2 separate regions of the Homo sapiens genome follow, and region 2 is linked to region 1. The links come from fine-mapping of genetic effects on gene expression. A gene starts in region 1. The other region holds a variant in brackets. All regions are shown on one strand. Distances are between the middles of the regions. Region 1 holds the start of CLEC12B (C-type lectin domain family 12 member B). Region 2 overlaps CLEC2A (C-type lectin domain family 2 member A).

The links. PIP is the estimated chance that this variant, and not a neighbour inherited with it, causes the effect.
Region 2: its variant is the best candidate, but not a certain one, in a credible set for the expression of CLEC12B in sigmoid colon (GTEx, PIP 0.66).

The regions. Positions count from the first base shown.
Region 1 is chr12:10,007,516-10,012,907 of GRCh38, forward strand. It overlaps CLEC12B (C-type lectin domain family 12 member B), which reads left to right and starts at 3,112. Exons shown (of 6, transcript NM_001129998.3): 1 at 3,112-3,335; 2 at 5,270-5,368. The coding sequence starts at 3,245.
Region 2 is chr12:9,920,439-9,925,830 of GRCh38, forward strand. CLEC2A (C-type lectin domain family 2 member A) reads right to left here. Exons shown (of 5, transcript NM_001130711.2): 3 at 1,628-1,794. Among named protein-coding and RNA genes, the nearest start is that of CLEC2A, 9.2 kb to the right of the region's middle. The variant A/G (reference allele first, on the strand shown) is at 3,185.

The DNA of each region.
Region 1 (5,392 bases):
ATTTCTTTTTTTTCTTAAGATAATGTTAATGGAAAAGCCAGGTTATCCGTTTAGTTTGTAGAAAGAGAAGACAGAAAGAAATTTGAGAGTCTGAGAAAGAAAAAGAGATTGGGAATAATCTTTTAGGAGATTTGCAGAACAGATTGATTAGTAAGAGTGCTGAGAAGTTACATTTCAAAAACGTAAGATAAAACCAGTTAATATGATCACATTCAGCTACTTGAATGTATGCACAGAGTAGGTAGGGTTGGATTTAAACAAGCTGCATTTTCTAGATGCTTATGATGAATGAAGAGGTAAGCAAGGAAGTTGTAGCTGTGGGTAAGAAAACGATTTTTATAATTGGCCCTGGTAAGTGGTGCATGCTGGGTATAATAGGAAATGAGACATGAGGGATTGACAACAATGAGAAGTTGGCATGGTCAGTGAAGTTGCTATCTCAGTGGGCACTGAAATGCTGTAGAGTGTAGAATACCCAGAGAGAGTGGGCTGGAAACATAGGAGGTGGAGGTCAGAGAGTGAAATATCTGAAACAGATCATGGAAGAATTTCTCATATTGGAAATGAAATTGTCTGCACTCTAGTGCAGTGCTGTTCAATAGCCACGTTGCTAATAATGGAAATGTTATTTACCTGCACTGTCCAATTGCATAGCCAATGCCACCTGTGGCTGTTAAGTACCTGAAGTATGACTAGTGTGACCTAGGAAATAAATTTTAAATTTAATTTAATTTTAATTAATTTAAGTTTAAATAGCAATTATATGCCTAGTGATTACTACGGTGAATAGCCTAGCTCTAAACTAGGATCATCTAGTGGGTGACTGATTTTTGTGTGTGAGCAACTGATTTCTGAGTGTGGGTAAGGTTATTGGAGGCAAATTCAAGAACTGAGAGCCCATAGTATTGGAATTATCACCTACCTGAATGTCGAAATCACATGATAATCATGATAGGAGTAGAGATCAATAAGATTTAAGATAGTTGAAAAAATAATGAAGAAATAAGGAGAATTTGGTAAATGACTGCAACAAAGTGAGTTTTTAAATAGTGTAACTGATAAAATAAGCTACAGAAATGCTGTAAGTTTTTAAGGGAGAAAAGTATATAAAGAAATGTCTAAATTAATATGATCATACACTAATAATGATAGATGATATAGCTTTTTGGATCATAATAATAGAAAGTATGTGAGAAGTGTTATCAATCTTCTCTTAGAAATAATTAGGAATCAGGTGACATTCTTCATCATTGTTCAAGCTAAGCATCATTTCATGGATAGTGAGAAGTTAATACTTTGTTAGGAAGCTTTAAGGTATGTGAAAGAATTAAGGAAATGAGGATGAAAACCCAGTTTTTGCAAAATCTGGTGAAAGTCATGAGACGTGAGGCCAGCCAGACTTCCTGAATCGAGTGGGGACTCAGGGAACTTTCCTGTCTTACAAGAGGATTGTAAAACGCACCAATCAGTGCCACGTAAAACGCACCGATCAGCGCTCTGTAAAACGCACCAATCAGCAGGATTCTAAAAGTAGCCAATTGCGGTGAGGATTGAAAAAAGGTCAGTCTGATACGACAGAAACGGAACATGGAGGGGACAGTAAGGAAATAAAAGCTAGCCACCCCAGCCAGCAGCAGCAACCCGCTTGGGACCCCTTCCATGCTGTGGAAGGTTTGTCATCCTGCTCTTCACAATAAACCTTGCTACCACTCAGTCTTTGGGTCCGTGCCATCTTTAAGAGGTGTAACCCTCACCGCAAAGGTCCGCGGCTTCATTTTTGAAGTCAGCGAGACCAGGAACCCACCGGCAGGAACCAACTCCGGACACGGACCAGAACAGAGATAGAAAACCATTCTTAATTTCTTATTTTTGTAATCATCTATTTAAACTGGTCCTCATGTCAATGGTCTCTGCCTTTTCTGAATTCAACTAGAATAGTAAACATAAGCATAGATTTATTATTTGTTTCAATATTTTTGATAGTGGAGTTTTATTGATATATGACTTAGAGCCTCCAAACATTTTTTTGATTATTTCATCAATTTGAAAAAAAAAAAAACAAAAAACATGAACAAGTAACATATGTATATTTAGGTGTTTAGAGATCATGCACAGCGTTCCTAAAGAGAAAGTTTTTACATTGCCTTTCTGCATCTGCTTCACAGCTGTGGGGTGAGTGCACCTCACGCTGGACACCTTTGACTAAGATAATCTCCACACAGATATGAACCTTGGAAGTTTTAGATCACTCCCCACTCATCTGAAACCACAAAACTCATACCCAATCCTTCCCCTAAGTACAGTTATCTAATATTCTGCCTCTCCCCAAAGGAAAGCTTTAGAGGAGATTCCTTAATTTCGTCCCTCATATATAGCGCTCCCCCCCCATATTTTCCTGGGTTCTGTATTAACTACATATTGCTGCTGTAACAAATTACCACAGATGTATTAACTTCCGGTAGTTATCTTTTTAAAATCTTGTCCTGTGTATTCCTTGCTGTCTGCAGGATTATCCCATGGTTGTTGTTCTGTTAGGAACTTTCCCAACCATGCCAGAAGAGGGCACTCCCATTCATACTCACGTTAAGTAGCTAAGTAGCTATCAGTTTCTTCTCCATGCTCCATTACCAACACCATGTCTCTCTCTCTCTGTCTCTCTCTCTCTGTCTCTCTCTGTCTCTCTCTCACACACACACACACACACACACACACACACACACACGCTTGAATTTTCTATAATAGCAGCCAGGTGTGTGGCACAGCTCTTTCTGTCTTAATGTGTGTCTCTCTGCTTAATATCTAATGTGGCTGAGAATAAACTAGAACCAATGTCTCCAGGCAGATTAGCTAGCCTTAGATAGATGTAAAGAAGACAACCTGACTCTTTTCTGAAACATTCAGAGCATCCTCTACCCCGAGGATCATGGGAATTCCCTCATGTTCCTCCTGCTCTGCCTCAAGCACCCCTTCTTTGCTGCACAGCAAGAAACAGTTCTGACAGAGCAGACAGTTTGAGATCTGTAACATTCTAATGAGAATATCTCTAAGGAGAATATTTGGCTTTTCTCACTTTCTCTGTAGAGAAACAAATTGTCATTCTTCTCTTACAGAGGGGCAGTAGAGTGTGTCTGGGTCAGCTGAGTGACTACATCAAAGCTCCCAGCCTTGAAAAACACATGCTGTTCCCAGGCCTCAAGATATTGAAACATTAATTAGATAATTTAAAGTAGCGTTTTCTTCTACAATGTCTGAAGAAGTGACCTACGCGACACTCACATTTCAGGATTCTGCTGGAGCAAGGAATAACCGAGATGGAAATAACCTAAGAAAAAGAGGTAGGAGTTCAGAGAAGACCAGCTGTGTCCTTGGGGGAGTGGACAGGTGTTAAATGCTTTGAGGTGCCAGCTTTAATACTGGCGTTAAAGACATGTGCTGTGAAATCTCCAAAATGGGGACAAATAGTTGTGGAATGTATTAGAAAAGTGAGTGTTCCCAAGGTTGAAGTGAAAATATGTGGCTTTCAGAACCTCTTTAAAGTTGTGTGATATCACACAGTCAGAGAAATTCTGACTGCACATGCCAGAAATTGAGCTTGGGGAATTAGAGATTTCTTCTTATGAATATAATCCTTGATATTTATACCTTGTTAGAGATGCCAGGAGGATATTCTTTCAGAAACCAGATTGGAGGCTTCTAAAATAGAGAAGGTAGAGGACGTTTTTCTTTTAGATGATGTAAGTTACTTAAGAGAAAACTGGAAGATGAGTGAGTGGATTAGAAATAGATCAGAGCTAATTTTTCTTTTGTCAGTATTTTTTCAAATTTTAGGGTAGTTGAAATCCGAGCATAATTTGTAATGTTGAACCAGTAATAATAGTATCTGGGTAGTATTTTATGTACATTATATACAGATATAATTGTAATGAAAATCCACAATAATATTCGAATATTAGTATTTTCTCCATTACATAGATGAAAAAACTGAGGGTGAGAGAAATTAGATAATTTAAGCAAGCTCACACAACTGCTATGTGGGGAAGCCCAGTCTCAGTGCTGGTCTTCAGCTCATTCTCTTATGCCTAATTGGAAAAATAGCAGTCTCCATGGTCAAGACTCTGATTTAATATATAAGACCACATCTCTTATTTTCAGATATGTTAACTATCCAGGTTCTCCTGAATCATGTCAGTCATCTGAACTACTTTCTCCTGCCCTCTAGATTTATCTTTACATTTTGTGTGGTGCATGACATTTGAGGGAAGGATATTTACAAAAAGCCGATGGGAATAGACTTTGCATATGTCTAATAAATGTGGTTACACATTTTTGCCTTGTTTTGTTTTACTTTTTAATTCTAATTCTAACCTGTGAGGAAAAAGGAGGTGTGGATATGGTGCATATCACAGTGTACCTAGAGTCTGTCATGCTGTATCTAAAACATTGCGCTAGATGTTATTTGGACCTAAATCAAGGGATATGAAGCTAAGGAAAACATGACAACCATTGATATTTTAAACAACAACAATGACTAGGATGCTAACGGCTTTCTGGTCTATTCTGCTGTTTGTAGGTTAGACTGCACATTCTTTCCTTCTTTCATTCAGTATTCATTCATTATTTATTAGGTGATAAATAGCATGAATAATAGATAAGTTATTGTTAACAGGTAAAAGATACTTTAAAAAGTCGAATCCACTTTTACAAGGCAGATAGAACATGTGCCTTATAGAGACTTTTGAGCTCAAAAGCTTGAGGTGTCTCCTACTGTCAGCATCATCCAGAAAAGCAGTTTTTAGATCTCTCATTTATGAATTCAATAAACTTGAGGAAGAAAAGTGGGCAATGATGTAAAACAAAAACCTTGAAATTAGGAGAAGCTTCCTTTTTATTTTATTATTATTATACTTTAAGTTTTAGGGTACATGTGCACAATGTGCAGGTTAGTTACATATGTATACATGTGCCATGCTGGTGTGCTGCACCCATTAACTCGTCATTTAGCATTAGGTATATCTCCTAAAGGTATGCCTCCCCCCTCCCCCAACGAAGCTTCCTCTTAAAGTGAAGGAGAGCGGTGGAGAAATGGAGGGGAAACAAGGATGGCACCCTCATTGCACTTCATATTAGGTATTTTCTAAATGAGGGCATTAAAGAAGCAAGAAAGAAACGTTAGTATCGGGAAGCTCCCTAAGTGGGAGAAATAAACAAACCAAAGTGAAACAAGCACAAAGCAGTTCTGTGTGCTGATTGCTCTTTTGGCTTTCTCCAGGGCATCCAGCTCCATCTCCCATTTGGCGTCATGCTGCTCTGGGTCTGGTAACTCTTTGCCTGATGTTGCTGATTGGGCTGGTGACATTGGGGATGATGTGTAAGTATATCAGCATCAAACCCA
Region 2 (5,392 bases), 87 kb before region 1:
CATGGGAGCAGCATGGGTTCCAGGGGTTGCACATTCACTCACCACTTCCCTGGGCGAGGGGAGTTCCCCTGGCTCCATGTCGTTCCCAGGTTGGCCATCGACCTGCCTTGCTTTTCTTCATTGTCTATGGGTTGAGTTGTTTCCTTGATTAGTTCCATTGCGTGTACCCTGGATGTTTCAGTTCAAAGTGCTGTATTTACTCACCCCTTCAGTTCCTCTCTTTGAGAGCTGCGCACTCCAGCTACTTCTAGTCGGCCATCTTGGCCACTCTCCAACCCCCAGCTTTTCTTTAAAAACTAATCTATTTTCTTACTCTGTGTCCCTAGAGTCCACGTGTCTCCTTCTTTGCCCTCTTTACTTCCATTAATTCACTCGCGTCTTCGAAGTGCACATATTTCCTTCATTTCCTTGTCTCTAAATTCTAAGAGCTGTATTTTTAAAAATTTTTTCTGTCTATGCTTGGTAGAATGCAAATTGAAAAGGGTTTAAAAAATCTACTTAATAATCTAAGAACATTTAACGAAGACATTTAGATACATAAACAGTATGCATTGTGGTAAAGGACATGGCATCACTAGTCATCTTGCCTGGGTTCAAATCCCAGCCCAACAACTTATGGCTGTGTCATTGGCTGGGTTACATAACATTTCTGTGACTGACTTTCCTCATCTTTAAAGTAGGGAGAGTTATATAACTCCTTCATGGGTGTTAGTAGAAGATTACATGAGATTATATAGTTTCAGTGCTTAGAACACTGTTGAGCACACATTGTCATACACAGTTGACTCAAACAATGTGGCAGTTAGGGGCACTGACCGCCTGTGCAGTCAAAAGTCTGTATATAACTTTTGACTCCTCAAAAAGTTAACCATGCTGTTTATGGTATCTCATGCTAATTCTAGCACTTTGGGAGGCTGAGGCAGTAGAATTGCTTGATCTCAGTTTGAGACCAGCCTGGACAACATAGTGAGACCTCATCTCTACAAAAAATAAACAAAATTAGCCAGGAGTGGTGGTCTGCACCTGTAGTCCCAGCTACTCAGGAGGCTAAGGTGGGAGGATTGCTTGATCCCAGGAATTCAAGGCTACAGTGAGCTGAGATTGCACCACTGCACTCCAGCCTAGGTGCCAGAGTGAGACTCTGTCTTAAAAACAAACAAACAAACAAACAAAAAACAAAAACAGAAAACTTAGCCACTAGTAGCCTGCTGTTGACTGGAAGTCTTACTGGTAACATAAAAGTAAATTAACATATATTTTCATGTTATTTGAATTATATGCTGTATTATTACCATAAAGGAAGCTAGAGAAAAGAAGATGTTATTAAGAAAATCACAAGAAAGAGAAAATCTATTTACTATTCATTAAGTGGAAGTGAAGACATCGTAAAAGTCTTCATCCTCGTTGTTTTCATATTGAGTAGGCTGAGGAGGGGGAAGAAGAGGAGGGTTTGCTCTTGCTGTCTCAAGGGTGGCAGAGGAAAAATAATCCAGGTATAAGTGAACCCACACAGTTCAAACCCATGTTGTTCAAGGATCAATTGTATTATAGTATTAGCTATTATTGTTTTATTATGTTTTTATACAAACAATCTCTGAAATTACTGAAGACTTTTCTGTTTTCTTACCATGTCTTCTTGTGTATCAATCTGAGCAAGTTCTGCTTTCTGCAAACTACAAAATATTTTACTGGCTGTCCAATTTCTGGTATCATCAGAAAAATAGAAACACTTATCTCTCACTCCAAGCCAGTCCCCTGAACATGCCACAGGTTTAGCATGCTTGGACCATGTGGCTGAAAAAAAAAGAAAGAAATGATCAGATAAAGCATATGTTAAAAAGTGTTTCTACTCATTCAGGTGTATTAATTTTACTTTTTGCTTCCACAGTTTGAGGCCCGTAAGTTAGCTTCCCCCCTCCCCAGAATGAGGATGAATTAACTTCCCCTGTCTGTAAGGAAGATCATTTAGTGATCAAGCAGTGCATACTTTTTTCTATTTCCCTGGCTTCTATTTTGAGAAATGGAACCACTAGCTTCTCATAATCTATATTAATATCCTGCCAAAAACAATGCATAAAATGTAGCTATAAATTCTGCAATCAAGGTAGAGTGCTGGAGATCTGCATGTAATTTAGGTTTCGAGGTTAGGGTAAGAAATGGAGGCTTTCCTTTACCTATGAAAACACCCAAGCTAGGAAAGTGAAACTTGCCATAAAGGACAACACATAAGTGAAACATAAGAATTAGTGAAACCTTTGTTTCATTTCATTTACATCCAGTGCTGAAGAATATGGAATAATAATGAAAGCACATTGTTTGGAGATTTACTGTCTCAAGGTTTTATTTAGGTGCTAAGTATTCAGAATAAGACAAGTCCATGCATTCCACATGTTTGAATAAATTAATGCAAGTAATAAAGAGCCAACTATATGCTCAAATGTAGGGCAAACTCCAAAGGCTGCACCCCCTACTCCACCATGATTTATTATTATTATTATTATTTTGTAGTGCTCAGAAGTGGATACAGGCTACTACACAGGGTGTAAGATATAATGTGTTTCAACTCTGTCTCTGTGCTCTTTTTGTTGTGTTTTGTTTTGTTAAACTTTAAGTTCTGGGATAAATCTGCAGAGTGTGCAGGTTTGTGACGTTGGTATACATGTGCCATGGTGGCTTGCTGCACCTATCAACCCATCTTCTAGGTTTGAAGCCCCGCATGCATTAGGTATTTTGCAATCTATCCATTTGACAAAGGACTAATATCCAGAATCTACAAAGAACTTAAACAAATTTACAAGAAAAAAACAATCCCATCAAAAAGTGGGTGAAGGATATGAACAGACACTTCTCAAAGAAGACATTTACGCAGCCAACAGACACAGGAAAAAACGCTCATCATCACTGGCCATCAAAGAAATGCAAATCAAAACCACAATGAGATATCATCTCGCACCAGTTAGAATGGTGATCATTAAAAAGTCAGGAAACAACAGGTGCTGGAGAGGATGTGGAGAAATAGGAATACTTTTACACTGTTGGTGGGACTGTAAACTAGTTCAACCATTGTGGAAGACAGTGTGGCGATTCCTCAGGGATCTAGAACTAGAAATACCATTTGACCCAGCCATTCCATTACTGGGTATATACCCGAAGGATTATAAATCATGCTGCTATAAAGACACAT[A/G]CACACGTATGTTTATTGTGGCACTATTCACAATAGCAAAGACTTGGAACCAAACCAAGTGCCCATCAATGATAGACTGGATTAAGAAAATGTGGCACATATACACCATGGAATACTATGCAGCCTTAAAAAAGGATGAGTTCATGTCCTTTGTAGGGACATGGATGAAGCTGGAAACCATCATTCTCAGCAAACTATGGCAAGGACAGAAAACCAAACACCACATGTTCTCACTCATAGGTGGGAATTGAACAATGAGAACACATGGACACAGGGACGGGAATATCACACATTGGGGTGATGTTGGGGTTGGGGGAGTGGGGAGGGATAGCCCCCCTGTCGTGGGGTTGGGAGAGTGGGGAGGGATAGCATTAGGAGATATATCTAATGTAAATGACGAGTTAATGGGTGCAGCACACCAACATGGCACATGTATACATATGTAACACAAACCTGCACATTGTGCACATGTACCCTAGAACTTAAAGTATAATAATAAAAAAAAGAAAAAAAGAAAAAATAATAATCGCCATACTGACTGGCCTGAGATGGTATCTCATGTGGTTTTGATTTGCATTTCTCTACTGACCAGTGATGATGAGCTTTTCTTTATATGTTTACTGGCCACATAAATGTCTTCTTTTGTCTTTCTGCTCTTTTTAATCAATGAATAAATGAACATAAAAACTTACTGTAGAAACTCTTGTCTATATTTAACTTCCAGATGTTTAGACAGCAATAACATTAAGCTCTAAGACTACACTGACAGTAGAGACTATAAACAAGAAGACTATCAGTATTCTTGAGAATGACCGAAACCCAACCCAACCCAACCCAACCCAACCCAATCAAACCAAAACAAAACAAAGAGCAGTGCTACTTAGCCAAATATAAGTGCTAAATTAAGCAAACCATGCATATGGAAAATCAAGTGCTGGGGACTATTTGGCCATGGCTCAGGAATTAAATTCTACCTTTGGATCTTTTTCACAAAATAAACCCATAGAACCCAGAGGAAATTTAACAACTTCATTTTTACAAATATTGCAATTCCAATGAGACAGTCTTGCAAAAGGTCACATATGCCGTTATTTCTTTGTTTTTTTTCATTTAACTTAATATGATAGTGAAGGAGTTCAGAACATGATGCCCCGAAATATGTCACTCAGGCATATAGACTCTTTTGAGTTAAACGCACTTTTAAAACAGCAGATGCAAGAGAAAACACTCTGAGCTTCCTTATTTTTCTTATAAGCAGGAGATAAAATACCTTTGTGAAAGATATCTTCTCTATACCAGAAGGAAAGCAACATTCTTATAGTCAAGGATAGGTAGTTGAGGCCAAAGGAAATGTGTGCAAACAACATTTGTTAATTTAACATTTATCTTTCCGGTCACTTTTCTACCCAATTAATTACCCTAGATCAAACCTCTTTGCCTTGCCACATTTTCATAATTTATTACCCTTTGTTGAATTCAATATATAAGTGTTCAACTCTACCTGCATCTTTAGGCTTTCATAAGGAAGACGTGCATGTCACGTCAAACTTATATTAACTAAACGCATGTGCTTTGCTCAAGTTGATGTGTCTTGTGTCAATTTCATTCTCAGGCCCGCAGAAAAACCCTGAGCGGGTAGAGGTAAGATTTTGCATTCCAACTAATAGAAATAAATAAAGTTTTATAGAACAAACTATTAGTGACATAACTTACTCTTGATTAAAAAGAAATTAAAGGAATGCTACAATTATGAAGGTCAAGCTGCATGGTTTTTAAAATTTATCAAGCATTAGAGTTATACAGCCAAGGTGTTTGATCCTAGGTCTGGAATGTATTATTTGTGAGAGGCAACTTACTCATTCTGTCCTGTATATTTTTTATCTGTAAATGGATTTTCTTATACCTGTATCCTAGTCTAATGAGGATTAAATACAAATAGCAGAGCATAGTGTATTTAACATTAGCTCACTAATTCACAAACTCTAAAAAAGAAAATTATCTGTAACAAGCCCATAGAACTGATGTTTATGTGGGATTTTTTTTTATAAATATAGAAATTGATCCTCCTAGTTTTAAAACTTGAAACTTACATTTGTCTTATTTGAGTTCATTCTTTAGGAATCTGACCTTTAGTCCTCTCAGATAGTAACAGGAAACCGAAAGTCACCAGATCACCACTTCCAGACAAGGGACTCCTCACTGCCATGA